2 separate regions of the Homo sapiens genome follow, and region 1 is linked to region 2. A link means that fine-mapping ties the variant in region 2 to the expression of a gene that starts in the linked region. Tissue or cell type: whole blood. Region 2 holds a variant in brackets; the other region holds the start of a gene. All regions are shown on one strand. Distances are between the middles of the regions.

Region 1 (7,522 bases), 24 kb after region 2:
GCATCCTCTCCATCCCCATCCCCAGAGGCCTCATTCACCTGTGGGCAGAGGCATCATCAGTGGGCTCAAGGGCAGAACCACGATGAGACTCTGGAGAGCAAGACAGAAGCTCCCAGGGCCTTTGAATTCCCAATACTTGGGATTTCCTTCCCTGAAGTCTTCCCTCTGGGGAAGTCTAGCCAATGGCACTCACATTTCACATTTCTTTTCTCAGAGAAGGCATCTTTTTTTTTTTGAGATGGAGTGTTGCTCTGTTGCCCGGATTGGAGTGCAATGGCGCGATCTTGGCTCACTGCAACCTCCACCTCCTGGGCTCAAACAATTCTCCCGCCACAGCCTCCTGAGTAGCTGGGATTACAGGCGCATGCCACCACATCTGGCTAATTTTTGTATTTTTAGTAGAGATGGGGTTTCACCATGTTGGCCAGGCTGGTCTTGAACTCCCGATCTCAAATGATATGCCTGCCTCAGCCTCCCAAAGTGCTGGGATTACAGGTGTGAGCCACCATGCCCAGCCAGAGAAGGCATCTCCACCCAAATCCTTGTGGCAGTTCTCACACCTTTCTTCCCCAGAATACAAGGCTTCTCAGTTGTCTTCCATTTTAGGCTTACAAGACCTCTGTCAAGTTCTCCCCATTTCAGAAGATGAAAAACAGACCTTGAGTGACTTGCCCAAGGTCACATGAACAGTCAGCATTGAAACAGAAACCAGAACCTAGGTCTCCCAAGTGACTCCTAGCTCGAAGGCTCTCATGACTAACACCTTCAACAGGTGCTGCACACTGAAGACAGCTGGGCTGAGAGAACCAGACAGAATCGCATACAAAAAAACAGAAAACAAGAAACAAAAACAAACAAACAAACAAACAAAAAACAACAAAAAACAAGGCCCAGCGCAGTCGCTCATGCCTATAATCCCAGCACTTTGGGAGGCAGAGGTGGGTGGATCACCTGAGGTCAGGAGTTCAAGACCAGCCTGGCCAACATGGTGAAACCCTGTCTCTACTAAAAATACGAAAATTAGCTGGGCATGGTGGCAGATGCCTGTAATCCCAGCTACTTGGGAGGCTGAGGCAGGAGAATCACTTGAATCCAGAAAGTGGAGGTTGCAGTGAGCCAAGATAGTGCCATTGCACTCCAGCCTGGACAAGAAGAGTGAAACTCCATCTCAAAAAAAAAAAAAAAAAAAAAAAAGGCGGGTGCGGTGGCTCACGCCTGTAATCCCAGCACTTTGGGAGGCAGAGGCAGGCGGATCACCTGAGGTCAGGAGTTCGAGACCAGCCTGGCCAACATGGTGAAACCCCCATCTCTACTAAAAATACAAAAATTAGCTGGGCATGGTGGCGGGGGCCTGTAATCCCAGCTATTGGGCAGGCTGAGGCAGGTAGAATAGCTTGAACTCGGGAGGCAGAGGTTGCAGTGAGCCGAGATCACATCACTGCACTCTAGCCTGGGTGACAGAGAGGAGAGACTCCGTCTCAAAAATAAATAAATAAATAAATAAAAATTTAAAAACCAGATACACACAGAGGCATGGAAGCCTAGGCCAAGGTTCCCTGATCCTCCCAAAGGTGAGAGTTCCTGCTAGTAGTTCTAGGGAACCCCCTTATCTGCCCTGGCTAGGCCTCCTCACTAGTTTCTGGGGAACCCCCATATCTGCTCTGGCTAGGCCTCCTCACTAGTTCCTGGAATGGTCTCCATCTCTCCTCAGCCCCTGCCAGATTGCTGAGCACGTTGGTATTGGAGCAAGCTGTGTGTATCTGTCTCGCCAGAAATATTCCGTAGTCCTGAAGATCAGGGATGGTAACTTTCGTCTCCACATCCCCAGTACCTAGTTTAGTGTCTGGCATGCATGAAAGTGCGTGCGTAGAACTGAATTAACAATTATAATATATTGTTCTCCTGTTACGGCTGAAGTCGCGTAAGGCAGAGATCACATCTCCTACAGTCTCATGTCGTTTCCACGGACAGGGATGAGCGAGACATCTAACATTGACTGGGTTCCTAGTCCCTGTATACATAAATGGATGATGAATGGCTTGGGGAATGTAACATGTGATCTTTAATCTGCAATGCACTCTCCCAGTAGATATTTCTAGTGGAGACATTAGAAAAATTAGAGCTAGATGTGTTCATTGCCTTAATTTCAAAGGCAATCTTGCCGCCTTTCACCGCCCCTCTATGCATTCTAGTGGCGCACTCCCGCCTCCCCGGAGTGATAATGATTGGTATTTTCCAGCCGAGATCCGAAAAAAAAAAATCTGCCTCCGAGGCGATGATTGGTTCACTGCTTCCCGCATCCCACCTCAGGGTTGCCTCCTGGTACCTTCCCGTGTAGGAAAATGATTTTGTCCCGCGCAGACTCCCTCAGCACCTTCTGCAGTCTGAAGCCGGAGAACGGTAAGCGGACAGGAGCACAGGTACCATTTCCAACTCCTGCCTCCTTTTCCTCTGTGCTGGCGGCGTGGGCCTCCTCCACGTCCAATTCGCGCTTCCTCTTGCCTAGTTGAGGAGCTGCGTCCGCCATGCTGCCGCGGAGGCGGTGTGCGCCTGCGCCCCCTGCGCTGGCCCCGCCCCTAGCCCGAGTCCAGCGGCCTGGCTGGGCTGCTAACTCCCGGCCTACCCTGCTCTGGCACCCGCTCCTGCGGGATGCGTGCCGCGCATGGCGGAGCCCGCTGACCTGTCCCAGGGCGCGCCTTTCAACCGAGTTACTGCCTTTGGCCCCGTTGTGGTGCCGGCCGGCCCTCAGGGAAGGGAAAAGAAGGCTGAGAGTCCCGAAAGCGGCGGGCTAGAGGTGGCTGCGCAGTGAAGAGGGACCCCCAGGCCCACGCCCCGGGGTGGGAGCCGAAGACGCCCTTGGGCCACGGTAGTGTTGGAGCCCTTGTTTGAATACTGACATTTTAATCATAGTTACACCGACGTTGACCAATTATCGGGGAAGCAACGTTTCTGACGCAAATCCGTGAGCCCATTTGATTCCTTGGTCGATTTTTTATACCGAGTATTTAAGCCATTTCCATTTTTCTCCCATTTTAATTACTTTGCAGAAATTTTCATCGTGGTCAGTTTTTTACTTTGTAGACTCAGTACTTTTCTGCTGACAAAAAAGGTAAACGAATATGGCCAGAAGAACCATCTCCACCACCCACTTATTTCCGGGCTAGAGGCATCCCCCTCCTCTCTATTTTGTTTACCTGTATTTCTGCCCTGCTACCCAGGGATATGATTTGCAGTATGATTCGTCTCCCAGGGTTTCGTTTCTCTTTTTTTTTTTTTTTTTTTTTTTTTTTGCCATATAAAATTATTACTTGTAACTTCTGCTGTTGAGGGTTTCTTTGGTGACCATTGTTTCTGGTTAGCCCGTTTTTCACTGGTGTTATTTAACAGATCTAAATTTTGTGAAGAGTTGGTACTTACGGACAGGCGCGGTGGCTCACGCCTGTAATTCCAGCACTTCGAGAGGTCGAGGTGGACGGATCACGAGGTTAAGATACCGAGACCATCCTGGCCAACATGGTGAAACCCCGTCTCTACTAAAAATACAAAAATTACCCGGGCGTGGTGGCCCGCGCCTGTAGTCCCAGCTACTCGGGAGGCTGAGGCAGGAAAATCGCTTGAACGCGGGCGGAGTATTGTAGTGAGCCGAGATCGCACCACTGCACTCCACCCTGGCGACAGAGCGAGACTACGTCTCAAAGAAAAAAAAAAAGAGTTGGTACTTACATCGCTTCAGTCAGCCACACATTTATTTTGCCAGTGATTTGAGTTTAGGTTTTCAGACAGATCTCATGGGTGTGGGACAGTTTTTGCCATTCTCAACGTTAGCAACAAGATGCAATTTACAGTCAGTTTTTGGTCAATAACAAAGTGTACCATGTGTTAGTTTGATTTTTGGATTACTTCTACCAGAAATATAGATTAGGAGTTGGATAAAAGACTACTTTAGGCCAGGCGCGGTGGCTCATGCCTGTAATCCCAGCACTTTGGGAGGCCGAGGTGGGCGGATCACGAGGTCAGGAGATCGAGACCATCCTGGCTAACGTGGTGAAACTCCGTCTCTACTAAAGATACAAAAAAATTAGCCAGGCGTGGTGGCGGGCGCCTGTAGTCCCAGCTACTTGGGAGGCTGAGGCAGGAGAATGGCGTGAACCCGGGAGGCGGAGCTTGCAGTTAGCTGAGATCGCGCCACTGCACTCCAGCCTGGGTGACAGAGCGAGACTCCATCTCAAAAAAAAAAAAAAAAAAAAAGGACTACTTTGTGTGTGTGTGTGTGTGTGTGTGTGATGCAGAAAGCATTATTAGGAGAGACTTAGGATCTGTCCCCCAGGCTGGAGTGCAATGGCGCGATCTCGGCTCACTGCAACCTCTGCCTCCAGGTTCAAGCGATTCTCCTGCCTCAACTTCCTGAGTAGCTGGTATTACAGGCGGCTGCTACCACTCCCGGCTAATTTTTTGTATTTTTAGTAGAGTCAGGGTTTCACCATGTTGGCCAGGCTGGTCTCGAACTCCTGACCTCGTGATCCGCCCGCCTGGGCCTCCCAAAGAGCTGGCATTACAGGCGTGAGCCACCGCACCCTGCCAAAGTAGCTATGTTTTAACAAAAAGAGCCCATAATTGAGAGCCATGAAGTCGGGCCCCAACACTGACTAGCTGTGCAACTTTGGAAAAGTCTCTTAACCTTTCCAGGTCTCCATTTTCCATGTGCCAGCGGCTATTAGTTCTAAGCAAGACAACGAGGCCTCTTCTTTCATAAAATGTATATTCAAATGGGGTACATGAGGTAAACAAGATAATGATTAAGAACTGTTTTTTGTTTTTTGTTTTTTGTTTTTTTTTGAGACGGAGTCTCCCTCTGTCGCCCAGGCTGGAGTGCAGTGGTGCGATCTCGGCTCACTGCAAGCTCCACCTCCCAGGTTCACGCCATTCTCCTGCCTCAGCCTCCCAAGTAGCTGGGACTACAGGGGCCTACCACCACGCCTGGCTAATTTTTTGTATTTTTAGTAGAGACGGGGTTTCACCGTGTTAGCCAGGATGGTCTCAATTTCCTGACCTCGTGATCTGCCCGCCTCAGCCTCCCAAAGTGCTGGGATTACAGGCGTGAGCCACCGTGCCCGGCCAAGTACTGTTAATAGGACAAAACTGGACAGTGTGAAAGAGCCTGGGGATAGGAGCCCCCCCCCCCCGCCCTTTTTTTTCTTTCTTTGAGACAGAGTCTCACTCTGTCACCCAGGCTGGAGTACAGTGGTGCAATCTTGGCTCACTGCAACCTTCACCTCCCAGGTTCAAGCGACTCTTCTGCCTCAGCCTTCTAAGTAGCTGGGATTACAGGCGTACACTAGCACACCTGGCCAATTTTTGTATTTTTAGTAGAGATGGGGTTTTGCCATGTTGGCCAGGCTGGTCTCAAACTCCTGACCTCAGGTGACCTGCCCATCTCCCAAAGTGTTGGGATTACAGGCATGAGCCACCATGCTCGGCCAAGCTCTTTAGATAAGATGATCATGGACAGCCTCTCAAAAGGTGACATTTGAGCTGAGACTTGAATGATGAGAAGGAACCAGCCATATCAGCCATATGAAGAGCCCAGGCACAGTAAATATTAGCTGTCAAAGGCCCTAGAGCAGTAATGTGCTTGACATTTTTAAAAAATAGGAATGACCGTGGGGCATGGTGGCTTACACCTGTAATCCCAGCACTTTGGGAGGCTGAGGTGGGCGGATCACTTCAGATCAGGAGCTCGAGACCAGCCTGGCCAACATGGTGAAACATAGTCTGTACTAAAAATACAAAAATTAGCTGGGTGTGGTGGTGTGCGCCTGTAATCCCAGCTACCTGGGAGGCTGAGGCAGGAGAATCACTTGAACTCAGGAGGTGCAGGTTGCAGTGAGCCAAGGTCGCGCCACTGCACTTCAACCTGGGTGACAGAGCAAGACTCTGTCTCAAAAGGAATGACCTGTGTAGCTAAAATATAATGAGCAAAATAGAAACATTTGAAATGAAATAGTAGAGAAATGTATTCATTAGCGGCAAAATTAATCAATATGGGTATAATTTTGATTAAAATATAAAACCAGAATTCTACTCTTCAAAAAGGCCTGGCTCATGCCCCACGTGGTGGCTCATACCTGTAGTCCCAGCTACTTAGGAGGCTGAGGTGGGAGGACCACTTGAGCCCAGAAGTTTGAGGCTGCAGTGAGCTATAATCACACCACTGCCCTCCAGCCTGGGCAAGAGAGCGAGGCTTTGTCTCTTAAAAAAAAAGAATGCCAAGGAAAGGATGAGCTCATAGGAAGCCTCAGCTACCAGAGGTTCTATTAAATACCAGACCTCAGTGTGAAAGGAATCTTTATGGTAGTAGTTAAAATTCATTTCCTCAGTTACACTAGCCACTTTGCAAGTGCTTGATATCCACTTGTGGCTATCGTATGAGCACAGATGGAGAACATTTTCATTATCAAAGGAAGTTCTACTAGACAATGCTGTATTAGCTTACTCATTTATTATAAAGCCCTGTTCAATTGTTTTTCAGAAATCTTAAAATTTCTCCCACGCAAGGTGCGGTGGCTCACGCCTGTAATCCCAGCACTTTGGGAGGCCAAGGCGGGTGGATCACTTGAGGTCAGGAGTTTGAGACTAGCCTGGCTAACATGGCGAAACCCCATCTCTATTAAAAATACAAAAATTAGCTGAGTGTGGCAGCAGGCACCTATAATTCCAGCTACTCGGGAGGCTGAGGCAGGAGAATGGCTTGAACCTGGAGGCGGAGGTTGTAATGAGCCAAGATTGCACCACTGTGCTCCAGCCTGAGTGACAGAGCGAGACTCTGTCTCAAAAAAAAAAAAAAAAAAAAACCTCCCAAATCTTTTCTTTTTTAGTCTAAAGAAGGATTGGATACTTCCCAGTTCCATTTCAGGGATTATAACAGACTAAACTGAAAACAAGTCAGCTACAAAATACCCGAACATTCTGGATGTAAAATTTAAAACATTCTTTTAGTTACGTTGCTGAGCTCTCAAAAAAGTAAAATTTGCAGGAACCAAAAATGATGTGGGAGTTTGAATCTATAGAGTGGTAAGGGGATTTTTAAGGTGGAAGCTATTTTAAGGGCCATTGCTGATCTCTAGACGTCTAGGACCCGATTCAAGGGACAAGAGACAAGACCTGAGCTTATGTAAAGAGGAATTAAGATACAGAACTTTCTATAGAGCTAAGAACCCTGAAGGTCCACTAGCTCAATGAAGGGGCCAACAATTTTTTTTTTTTTTTTTTTTTTTTGGATACGGAGTCTCACTCTGTCGCCCAGGCTGGAGTACAGTGGCGCGATCTCAGCTCACTGCAACCTCCGCTGCCTGGATTCAAGCGATTCTCATGCATCAGCCTCCTGAGTAGCTGGGATTACAGGCACCCACCACCACGCATAGCTAATTTTTTTGTATTTTTAGTAGAGACGGAGTTTCGCCACGTTGGTCAGGCTGGTCTCGAACTCCTGACCTTGGGTGATCTGCTCGCCTTGGCCTCCCAA
Region 2 (10,703 bases):
CAATTCACCTTGCAGTGCCCACACACACAGCGTACCCTCCCTTCTTCTGGGCCAGGGAGGAGTGGCTGTGAGTTCCTCACATCACAACACCCTCCACCACAGTGACCTGAATCTTGGGGAGAAAAGTGAGAAATGCTCGAAGAGAACAAGGGTGAGTGATAAAGACAAGGCACAGTGTCAGAGTCAGTGAGTGGGCAAGAAACTGACTCATCAATAAGCATCAGTCATATTTAACTCTGAGTACTCACATGGGGCCAGTTCCAGGCAGAGGCTCCAGTTGGCGCTGGGCCTAGGCCCAGGGAGGAGTCAGGATCTTGGAGCTAAATGGCCTTGCATCTGGCCTGGCCAGACGACTGCCAGCTTGTGAATGGAGTCCCTGCACCAAATCCCCGGGGCCAATGGGGTCCTGCCTTCTTTTGGACGAATGCAAGGGGGAGTCGGTGAGGGAAGAGTTTTTCCTCTGAGACTGAGATCCTGCAGGCCGGTTTGCCGCAGGTGAAACCAGGAATAAGAGTCTGGACAGGGTGGGACTCACTCAACATCAGCCTTTTACCCATTCATGGACCCAAAGCAATGGCACAGTCATCCCGAGGCTGGATCAAGGCTACTGCAGAGCAGACACACATTCTTCCAAAGGACTGGATTGCTTTGAGGTCCCCAGAGAGCCTCCATGGCATGCCCAAGCACATCAGGTGGGACCAAGACCAGCATCAGTTCCCCCACCCCCAAAGCCTTCTCTCGCCATGCGATATAAAATGGCAATTGCCCGCCCCAGGCCTTCTGGTCCCACTTATCCTGTCTATTTCTCTCTGCAGCCCTCATTATCTCACAGAGCACATAGATCCTGAGATATCTGTGTATGGTCACACACCGTGTGACTGTGCATGGGATGTAAGCTGCACGAGGTGGGGATTCTGTCCGCCATGCTCTCTACTGTACCCCCATCCCCTCGCCCAGCACAGCGCCTGGCCCCTAATATGACCCCAATAGACACTCGTAAGAGGAGGCACCAGCCACGGGAGCAGTGCTCTGCGTCTGAGACATGCAGCCAGTCACCTGGATGCTGAGGCTCTGGGACTCCAGGTGGGGTAAAGTAATATTCCTGTAGTCATCTCCCGTCTCTCGGATCAGGCGGAGGTCCTGGCGCAGGTACTTCTGCAGGTGTTTCTCTGTGGCAGGGTAAACCACGGTCGTCTTTACATCTGCAATGATACAGCACAGCCCGTGACAGGGAAGCAATGCCCACTCTCTATGCCACAGGCACCACGGTGAGGAGAGAACTCCCACCCTGGCTTTGATTCCCTGAGGGAAGCCAAAATCCAAGAGGATCATGCACCCAAGATCCACTCCCACAGAGTGCCTTGTGCCACTGCATTCACGAGCTGAGCCACACTCAGAATCTGGAAAACACAAGGTTCTTACCTGTGGGTCACTGGGCCCCTCATCAGGCAAACCCCAGCCCTTCCTGCTCCATCTTCCAGGCACAGGAATGAGAGGTCTCTAACTCTTCTCACATACCAAATTTCTAGGTATGTGGCTTTCTGGACCCAAAGCTGAAAATATGGCTTAAAGGCCGGGCGCAGTGGCTGACGCCTGTAATCCCAGCACTTTGGGAGGCCGAGGCAGGCGGATCACCTGAGGTCAGGAGTTCGAGACCAGCCTGACCAACGTGGAGAAACCCCATCTCTACTAAAGATACAAAATTAACCGGGCGTGGTGGCGCATGCCTGTAATCCCAGCTACTCAGGAGGCTGAGGCGGGAGAACCACTTGAACCTGGGAGGCAGAGGTTGCAGTGAGCCCAGATTGCACCATTGCACTCCTGCCTGGGCAACAAGAGTGAAACTCTATCTCAAAAAAAAAAAAAAAAAAAAAAAAAAAAAAAAAATATATATATATATATATATATATATATATATGGTTTAAAGCCCAGTAGTCCCCTTAATGATGGGCAGTGCAGCAGAGCGCAGTGGTTCCAGGCACAGACTCTGCAGCCAGACTGAGTTCAAGTCCTGGCTCTGCCTGCTCCTTATTCTGAATGGGACCTTGGCCCCACCCGGGAGCACGGTTCAGCTGTTTAACCTCTTGGTGCCCCTACTTCTTCATCTGCCAAATGAGGATAGTAAAAGCTCCTGTGTCATAAGGCTGGGAGGATTAAACAAGTCAATTACCTGTGAAGTTCTTAAAACAATGTCTGGCACACAGTAAACACCACATAAGTGCTGTGATGTTTAATCCAGGGTTTCTCAATCTCAGCACCACTGACATTTTGGCCTGGATAATTCTGTTGCAGGGGCTGTCCTGTGCATTGAAGGATGTTCAGCTGCATCCCTGTGGCCTCTGTTGGGATGTTAGTAGCACCCTCCCCAAGTTGTGACAACCCAAAATGTCTCCAGACATTGCCAATGTGTCCCCTGAAAGGAAAAAGTGTCCCCAGGTGAGAAGCACAGTTTTAAACTAGAAGGATGTCTTGCAGTTTTCCTAAACAGACTCTAGGCTAGCTTCCTGGTCCAAAACCACCTGGTTTTGGTTAAGTCCTTTCCTTTATTTTTAAAAACATCTGGTACAATTGTCATCATTACTCTAACATGTATACATTGTGTTTTAACATAGATCTTAGGGGTATTTCCAAATCAGCTTGGATCTTTCTCAAAAGACCCATGGTTCCCTCTGACTTTCTTAATCTGGGTTCGGATAGGCTCTCCCAGGGAAACCCGAGAGAGCTGAAAACCCAGCGGGCACATTTCACCACCACGAAGTCCTCATACTCACTCACACACCGCAAAACCCGGCTAAGAACTATCAACCTATACTTTCATATTTGGTCTGAGGTCATAGGTGGTTTTAACCCCGCTTTCATACGTCAGTGAAGAGGGTGGGCTGGGACTCAAAAGAGTCATCCAGTATCACACCGTGAAACGTGGCAGAGGCGAACCTGGAACTGAGGCCATCTCACCCTAAAGCCAGTGCTCCTGCAACACCACAGGCTACTTCCAATTTCTACTTCCAAGTCCCAGTGGGGATGCACAGAGATGACATACCAGGCACGTGGCTTCTGTCCCATCAAACATCCCAGGCCCTCAGCTCTGGGTGGCACAGCAGCACAGTGGGAAGACATGGCCACTGGCCCCAGGCTGGCCACATGACTCTCCATACTGGCTGTGTACCCTTGGGCATGGGGCTTAACGTCTTAGAGCCTTGGCTTCCTCACCTATTAAAGGGTGGTCATCAAATCTGCCTCACAGAGTTGTTTACATTCAATAAAACGTGTCAGCTGGATCACGAGTTGCTAAATAAATGTCACCCAATCCTGGGAATCCCCGGATCTGACCCTGAAAAAGGGGCATGAAGGCCTCCTCACAACTCTCTGAGGAGCAGCAAAAGACTCTTTCTTGCTTCTCACTCTGTTCTCTAACAGCTCAGCGTCATAGGTCATGGGCCAGAGGTCAGAGGTCAGGCACACCAAGATCTCAAGAGGCGGGAGACTGCTTGAAGTAGACTGAACGGCACCACCTTGGCCCTTGCAGTGGACCTGAGGGAAATCCATACATCTGCAGTGGAGCTTGGTGGATGAGAACAGAGATTTTGGAGCCAGTCAGCCTGGGTGCAAGTCCTGGCTCTGCACTTATTAGTGGCGTAACCTCAGGCTAGTGACTGACACTGTCTGTGGCTTCAGTCTCCTGACTTCTACAATCTGGGGTAACAATAACAGCACCTACCTTCCAGGGCTGTTGGGAGAATTAAACGAGTCAGTAGAAGGAAAGATTCAGGAAGTGCCTCACATGGAGAAAAGCGCTCCCCCCAGGCTAGCTTGGATTCTCTCCGCTGTTGCCTCCGTTGCCTGGGTTGGGCAGTGGAGCTCCCTGAGAGTGGGGGAGAGATGGGCAGGGCACAGAGGCAGAGCGGGCGCTGGAGAGCAGCCGGGTTCTGCGGGCAGGGTCACCCAGCCGGGCTCCCAGCCTGGGGCTCCTGGCTGCTCCAGATCAGAAAGCCACCCGGCCTGTGAGCATGCCCTGGTCTGCCGAGGCCTGTGGGAGACCTGCCCCAGCCACCCAGGGTGCAGGGAAACTGGCGTCTCACCCAGCCAGCCCCTCCCGCCTCCCCTCAGCAGCAAGAGCATCCACAGGTGCTTATTTTCCAACTGCTCACTTCCTGCCATCCTCCTGCCTTTCCTGAGGTGCACCTGCAGGGATGGGAACCTGACTGCAGGACTCTCAGAGCTCCCCACGTCCCCCTAGAGCACTCACTCCTAAGGGGCCTGGCTTCCCTCAGGTCTCCACCGAAAGCCTCAGTCAGGGCCACACTGAGGTGGGAGCTGCCACCCTCAAACTGTCCCCTGCTCCACAGCTCCCGCGCTTCCTGCCGTGGACTACGAGGCTGTTGGTCACCTCGCCCTGGCCCTCTTTCCACCTTCATGCACTGCCTCTCTCCCGCTTAGGGCCTCTGCTCCAGCCGCGCCGGCTCCCCACTGACCCACTAACTCGCGTCAGCCATGGGCTCCTCTCCAGGCCGTGCCCTGGCCGCTCCCACGGCCGAGCTGACCCTCCTACCCAACGAGCCACGCTGCTCCTCGCTTCATCCAGGCCTCTGCTCTGAGGCCAGCTCCTCAGGCTCGGTCAGCTCTGGTAAAACAGCAGCCCTAACCTCGGGGTCCTCTGTCTCCTCCACCAGCTTGCTTCCTCTTCACTTCTCACTCCCTCACAGCAGCAGGTGGATGGACTGTCTGACTCCCCAACTACTATGCAGCTTCCGGAAGAAAACAATTTGTCCCCAGCACCTGGAATAGTGCCTGGCATACAGTAAGCACTCAGTAAATACTTAGTGAACAAATGAATCAATGAATCTGGCCTTTTCGACTTAAACCCAGGAAGAGCATTTTTGTCCCAGATGAAATAAAACCTCTCTGATACAAATCAATATATTTCCTAATGCTAAGGTTTACGATGGCAGCCAAAAAACAATGAACGCTGGTGTTTACCTCAATGCCCGTCAAGATGTTGACCTGCAGCTGAACTTCAGGAGGAGTTTGGTCAGGAGTCAATGCTCAATAAACAATCAAACCATCAGGTGAAAACACGTTGGGAAACACGATACACAGGCACAGTCTCAAAAATATCTCCCATAGATTACTTATTAATTACAAAGGGAACACGAGTCGCTTTACAGCAGCAAAAGGCTACCACCTCGGCCAGGCCATGGGCGTCACCGTCACCCCTGCTGGGCACGCCGACATCATGTGCCTCCTGATCATGTGGAATTCTGGCCAAAAACGCATAACCTGAGTCCAGTCATGAGGAAATATCAGCAAACCAAAATCCAGGGGCATTCAACAAAACTAGTGGCTTTATAACACTACAAAAATGTCAAAGTTAGGAAGGACAAAGAAGGCTGAGGAATTGCTCCAGATGAAGGGAGACTAAAGAGACGGGACTAAAGGGATTGGATTAGATCCGGGGTTGGGATCCGGGGAGGGGCGCCCTGCACTGAAGCAACTGGCACAACTTAACTATGGACTGTATGTCACAGAAGTCTCATACGAATGGGAAATCTCCTGAAATTAATAATTTTACCCTTTTTTATATCCATCGTTATCATTATTCTACGTATATGTGGAGACAGAAAAAGCCAATGTGGCAAATGTTAACAGGTGAAGTCCTTTTATTTTGTTTTTTGTTTTTTTTTTTTGAGACAGAGTCTCGCTCTGTCGCCCAGGCTGGAGTGCAGTGGCGTGATCTCGGCTCACTGCAAGCTCCGCCTCCCGGGCTCACGCCATTCTCCTGCCTCAGCCTCCTGAGTAGCTGGGACTACAGGCGCCTGCCACCACGCCTGGCTAATTTTTTGTATTTTTAGTAGAGACAGGGTTTCACCGTGTTAGCCAGGATGGTCTCGATCTCCTGACTTCGTGATCCACATGCCTCGGCCTCCCAAAGTGCTGGGATTACAGGCGTGAGCCACTGCGCCCGGC[C/T]GTGAAGTCCTTTTATAAGGGAGTTCTTTGTACTATTCTTACAACTTTTCTGCAGGATTGGAATTTTTTTTAGTAGGAAAATTTTTTTTAAGGTGTCAATACCTTTCGGAACCTCAGCCCTATAACACTATTCTAAGCCTGACACGCAAAAATGAACTCATTTACTCCTTATGACCAACATGAACGGGTATTATTATGATTGCATTTTACATATGAGGAAACTGAGGCCCAGGGCCTGGAGTGGCCCCCAAGGACCCACAGCCCCGTGTGGTGCTCAGGGCCGGGACCCACACTGGCAGCCCCATCTGCCCACGGCAGGTCAGCAGAAGAGGCCCGGTGGCCTTGCCAGGCTCTCCCTGCCATACGCTGTCTGGCAAGTGGACTGAGGGCACCGCCTGCTCAGGATGAGTGATACCTGGCAACACCCCTGCCCAGAGCTCTTCCTGGTAGCCAGAGAACTGACCAACTCCCCAGTCCCACCCTCCTGCTGGGATTCTCATTATTTATTTATTTATATGTATTTTTTGAGATGGAATCTTGCTCTGTCACCAGGCTGGAGTGCAGTGGTGCAATCTTGGCTCACTGCAACCTCCGCCTCCTGGGTTTCAGCGATTCTCCTGCCTCAGCGTCCCCAGTAGCTAGGATTACAGGCCCACGCCACCACGCCTGGCTAATACTTGTATTTTTAGTAGAGACAGGGTTTCACCAAGTTGGCCAGGATGGCCTCGATTTCCTGATCTCGTAATCCGCCCACCTCAGCCTCCCAAAGTGCTGGGATTACAGGTGTGAGCCACCGCGCCTGGCCTTCCTGCTGGCATTCTCCAAACACAGCCTGGGATAACCATAAACCCTCAAAAATCTATCCCTGGAAAATCTTCACAATATATTAAGAGCACCTCCAACACTCCTTACAGAGTTCCCCTGTCATGCTTTTTAACACTGTGTTTGTCTTTTTAATTCAAATTGTACTTGCATATATGTCAAAGAGTCAAATGAAGCTTGTTTTCAAAAACACTTTTCTGCTCCTCCCTGCTCCCAATTTCCAGCTCCTTCAAAGGCACCACTTTCAACACTTCTGGCCACCTCTTTGGTTATATACTTCCAGAATTCTAAATTATACTTTTATATCTTGTTCCTACTTGACTTTTAACTTCTACTATTACTTACTGACTTCTCATTAAGGAAGATGAGAATTTATCTCTTTTTACCATCCCTTCACCAAATGCACACACATGCACAAACACACACATATACACAGATACTTCCTAACCCTCAACCTCACAGTACAACTTTACCACAATTTTTGATAAATCAGTATTCAACACTGATGCTATGATGATGATGTAAATGCTGTTCACTGCCATAGTTACTGTGATTATTTTCTTCTCTTCAGCATAATTTTTGGTGTATGGAATAAGTCATTACATTTTTACTGTTTAATTTTTTTTCTTTTTTCGAAACTGAGTCTCACTGTGTCTCCCAGGCTGGAGTGCAATGGCACGATCTTGGCTCACTGCAACCTCCACCTCCTGGGTTCAAGCGATTCTCGTGCCTCAGCAACCCGAGTGAGTAGCTGGGATTACAGGTGCCCACCACCATGCCCCGCTAATTTTTGTATTTTTAGTAGAGATAGGGTTTCACCATGTTAGTCAGGCTGGTCTCGAACTCCTGACCTCAGGTGATCCACCCGCTTCGGCCTCCCAAAATTCTGGGATATAGGTGTGAGCCACCGTGCCCAGCCAGAGAAGGCATCTCCACCCAAATTCTGGCCACTTGTTTAATTTTCTATAAACATGTCACTAATTCATCCCCAAATCCACTTCCCTGTTTACATAAATCTCCTCTTATGTGTTAAACTCATCAGGCAAGCCAGGCACAGTGGCTCATGCCTATAGTCCCAGCAATTTGGGAGGCCAAGGCAGGGAGATTGCTTGAGACCATGGATTTGTGACTAGCCTGAGCAACATAGTGAGATCCCGTCTTTACCAAAAAAAAAAAAAAAAAAAAAAAAAAGGCAGAAAAATTAGCTAGGCATGGTGGTGCATGCCTGTAGTCCCAGCTACTCAGAAGGCTGAAGTGGGAGATCCCTTGAGCTGCGAAACGGAGGTTGTGATGAGCGCAGATCTCGCCACTGCACTCCAGCCTAGGGGACAGAGTGAGACCCTGTCTAAAAAAAAAAACTCAACAGGCACATGAACAATGTGTCTTCCCAGAACTTCCGGTTGCCACCCCCAGAAGTAATTCTCAAACTTTAGTGTGGCATTATTATTATTATAAATCCAATTCTTGGAATTTTCATTAGGAAAACTGTGAAAATATTTTCAATTCTCTGAAATAATTTACCAAGTAGATCAGCAGATAGGTATTCAAATTTCCACCAGAGCATAAAACAGAAATCATTATGCACAATTATTTGTCAGTTAAAAATAAAATTTAAACATTATACTAAAAAAAAATTTTGCTACTGCAATCTGTTATGTGAATACAATAACTGTAGAAATACAACTTTAGGGCTGGGTGCAGTGGCTCACACCTGTAATCCCAGTACTTTGGGAGGCCAAGGCGGACGGATCACCTGAGGTCAGAAGTTCAAGACCAGCCTGGCCAATATGGTGAAACCCCATCTCTACAAAAACACAAAAAAATTAGCCAGGCATGGTGGCTTGCTTCTGTAATCCCAGATACTCGGGAGGCTGAGGCGGAAGAATCGCTTGAACCTGGGAGGTAGAGGTTGCGGTGAGCCGAGATGGCGCCACTGCACTCTAGTCTGGGCAACAGAGCAAGACACCATCTCAAAAAACAAACAAAAAAACAACTTTAGGGTCAGGTTTGGTGGCTCATGCCTATAATCCTAGCACTTTGGATCACCTGAGCCCAGGAGTTCGAGACCAGCCTGGGCAACATGGCAAAACCCTATCTCTACAAAAAATACAAAAATTAGCTGGGTGTGATAGCACATGCCTGTAGTCCCAGCTACTCTGGTGGCTGAGGTGGTGGGAGGATCGCTTGAGCCTGGAAGGTCAAGGCTGCAGTGAGCTGTGATCGTGCCACTGCGCTCCAGCCTGGGTGACTGAGCAAGACCCTGTCTCAAAAAAAAAAAAGAAAAGAAAGAAATGCAACTTTAATACATTTAGAATTGTTTGAATGCCTTACTTGTTCAAAGAACTTTCTGCATCATGTGTATTTTTTTAACCATTAAAGTACACCTGCTTTGAAAAATACATGCATCAGCTTGCATATATAATATTACAATGGAAATAAACACAATGTTTCTAAAGCTGAACTTTCTACCGCTCAAGGTAAAACAATAATTGTATTTTGAAAATTGTTTCCCAGATAAGAGGATTAAAAAGGTCTCTTGTAACTATTGGTAACAGTACAGAATTATCAAATTTGTAAACTGTGAATCACAAACTCAAGTTGTGCCCAGAGACATGGTGCAAGCAAGATATATTTTGAGACTTGAAACATCTGAAAATATATTTATTCTACTGTCACACTTAGGAATTTGGTGGCTGGGTGTGGTGGCTCATGCCTGTAATCCCAACACTTTGGGAGGCTGAAACAGGGGGGAAATCTATTGAGCCCAGGAGTTCGAGACCAGCCTGCGCTACATGGCAAGACCCCATCTCTACAAAAAATAATAAATTAGCCACGTGTGGTGGTACCTGCCTCTGGTCGCCACTACTCGGGAAGGTGAAGTGGGAGAATCACTTGAACTCGGGAGTTTGAGGCTGCCATGAGCTATGACTGTACCACTGGACTCCAACCTGGCAACAAAGTGAGACATTGTCTCAAAAAAATTTTTTTGCTTCTTGCTAAAGAATTTTAGGATAGACTGGCCAACATGGTGAAACCCCGTCTCTACTAAAAATAAAAAAAATTAGCTGGGCGTGATGGCACGCGCCTGTAGTCCCAGCTACTCAGGAAGCTGAGGCAGGAGAATCACTTGAACCTCGGAGGCGGAGGTTGCAGTGAGCCGAGATTGTGCCACTGCACTCCAGCCTGGCAACGCAGTGAGACTTCGTCTCAAAAAAAAAAAAAAAGGAATTTTAGGATAGAAAGAAAATCTGAATGCTGGCTGGGCATAGTGGCTAACACCTGTAATCCCAGCCCTTTCGGAGGTTCAGGCAGGCAGATCACCTGAGGTCAGGAGTTCAAGACCAACTTGGCCAACATGGCGAAACCCCATCTCTACTAAAAATACAAAAATGAGCCGGGCGTGGTGGTGTGCGCCTGTAATCCCAGCTACTAGAGAGAATGAGACAGGAGAATTGCTTGAACCCAGGAGACGGAGGTTGCAGTGAGCCAAGATGGCACCAATGCACTCCAGCCTGGGCGACAAAGTGAGACTCTGTCTCAAAAAAATAAAAATAAATAAAAATAAGAAGATCTGAATGCTGTTGTTGTGGAGTCTGAGATCATTATGATGCCCAGTTCTTTGTGACCTGTTTTCTTCTGTCTCCAATGCCCTGATGGTGTGGTTGGATCTCAAAGTGGTTTTATCTTCATCCATTGTGCTAGGTAATTGCTGAGCCCTTTCAATCTTAAAAATCATGTTCTTCAGACCTGGGAAACTGTCTTGAATTATTTCTTTAAAGACCTTTCTTCTTCATTTTCTCTGCCTTTTCTTTCTGCAACACCCATTTGGATATTTAACTTCTTGGATTCAGCGTCTGACTTTCTTATCTTTTCTCCATCTTCCATCTCTTTTGTCTTTGTGCTCAACTTTTAAGGAA

The links. PIP is the estimated chance that this variant, and not a neighbour inherited with it, causes the effect.
Region 1: it holds the start of DCPS, and the variant in region 2 is fine-mapped to the expression of DCPS in whole blood (INTERVAL, PIP above 0.99). The same link has a PIP of 0.9 or more in fibroblasts.

What each region holds. Positions count from the first base shown.
Region 1 is chr11:126,299,086-126,306,607 of GRCh38, reverse strand. It overlaps DCPS (decapping enzyme, scavenger), which reads right to left and starts at 2,548. Exons shown (of 6, transcript NM_014026.6): 1 at 2,327-2,548; 2 at 1-38. The coding sequence starts at 2,527. It overlaps TIRAP-AS1 (TIRAP antisense RNA 1), which reads left to right and starts at 2,286. Exons shown (of 2, transcript NR_187388.1): 1 at 2,286-2,420. RefSeq lists an enhancer at 513-802 and a silencer at 2,461-2,590.
Region 2 is chr11:126,321,904-126,332,606 of GRCh38, reverse strand. It overlaps DCPS (decapping enzyme, scavenger), which reads right to left. Exons shown (of 6, transcript NM_014026.6): 3 at 1,057-1,202. Among named protein-coding and RNA genes, the nearest start is that of TIRAP-AS1, 23 kb to the right of the region's middle. RefSeq lists enhancers at 3,499-4,221, 4,222-4,946. The variant C/T (reference allele first, on the strand shown) is at 5,965.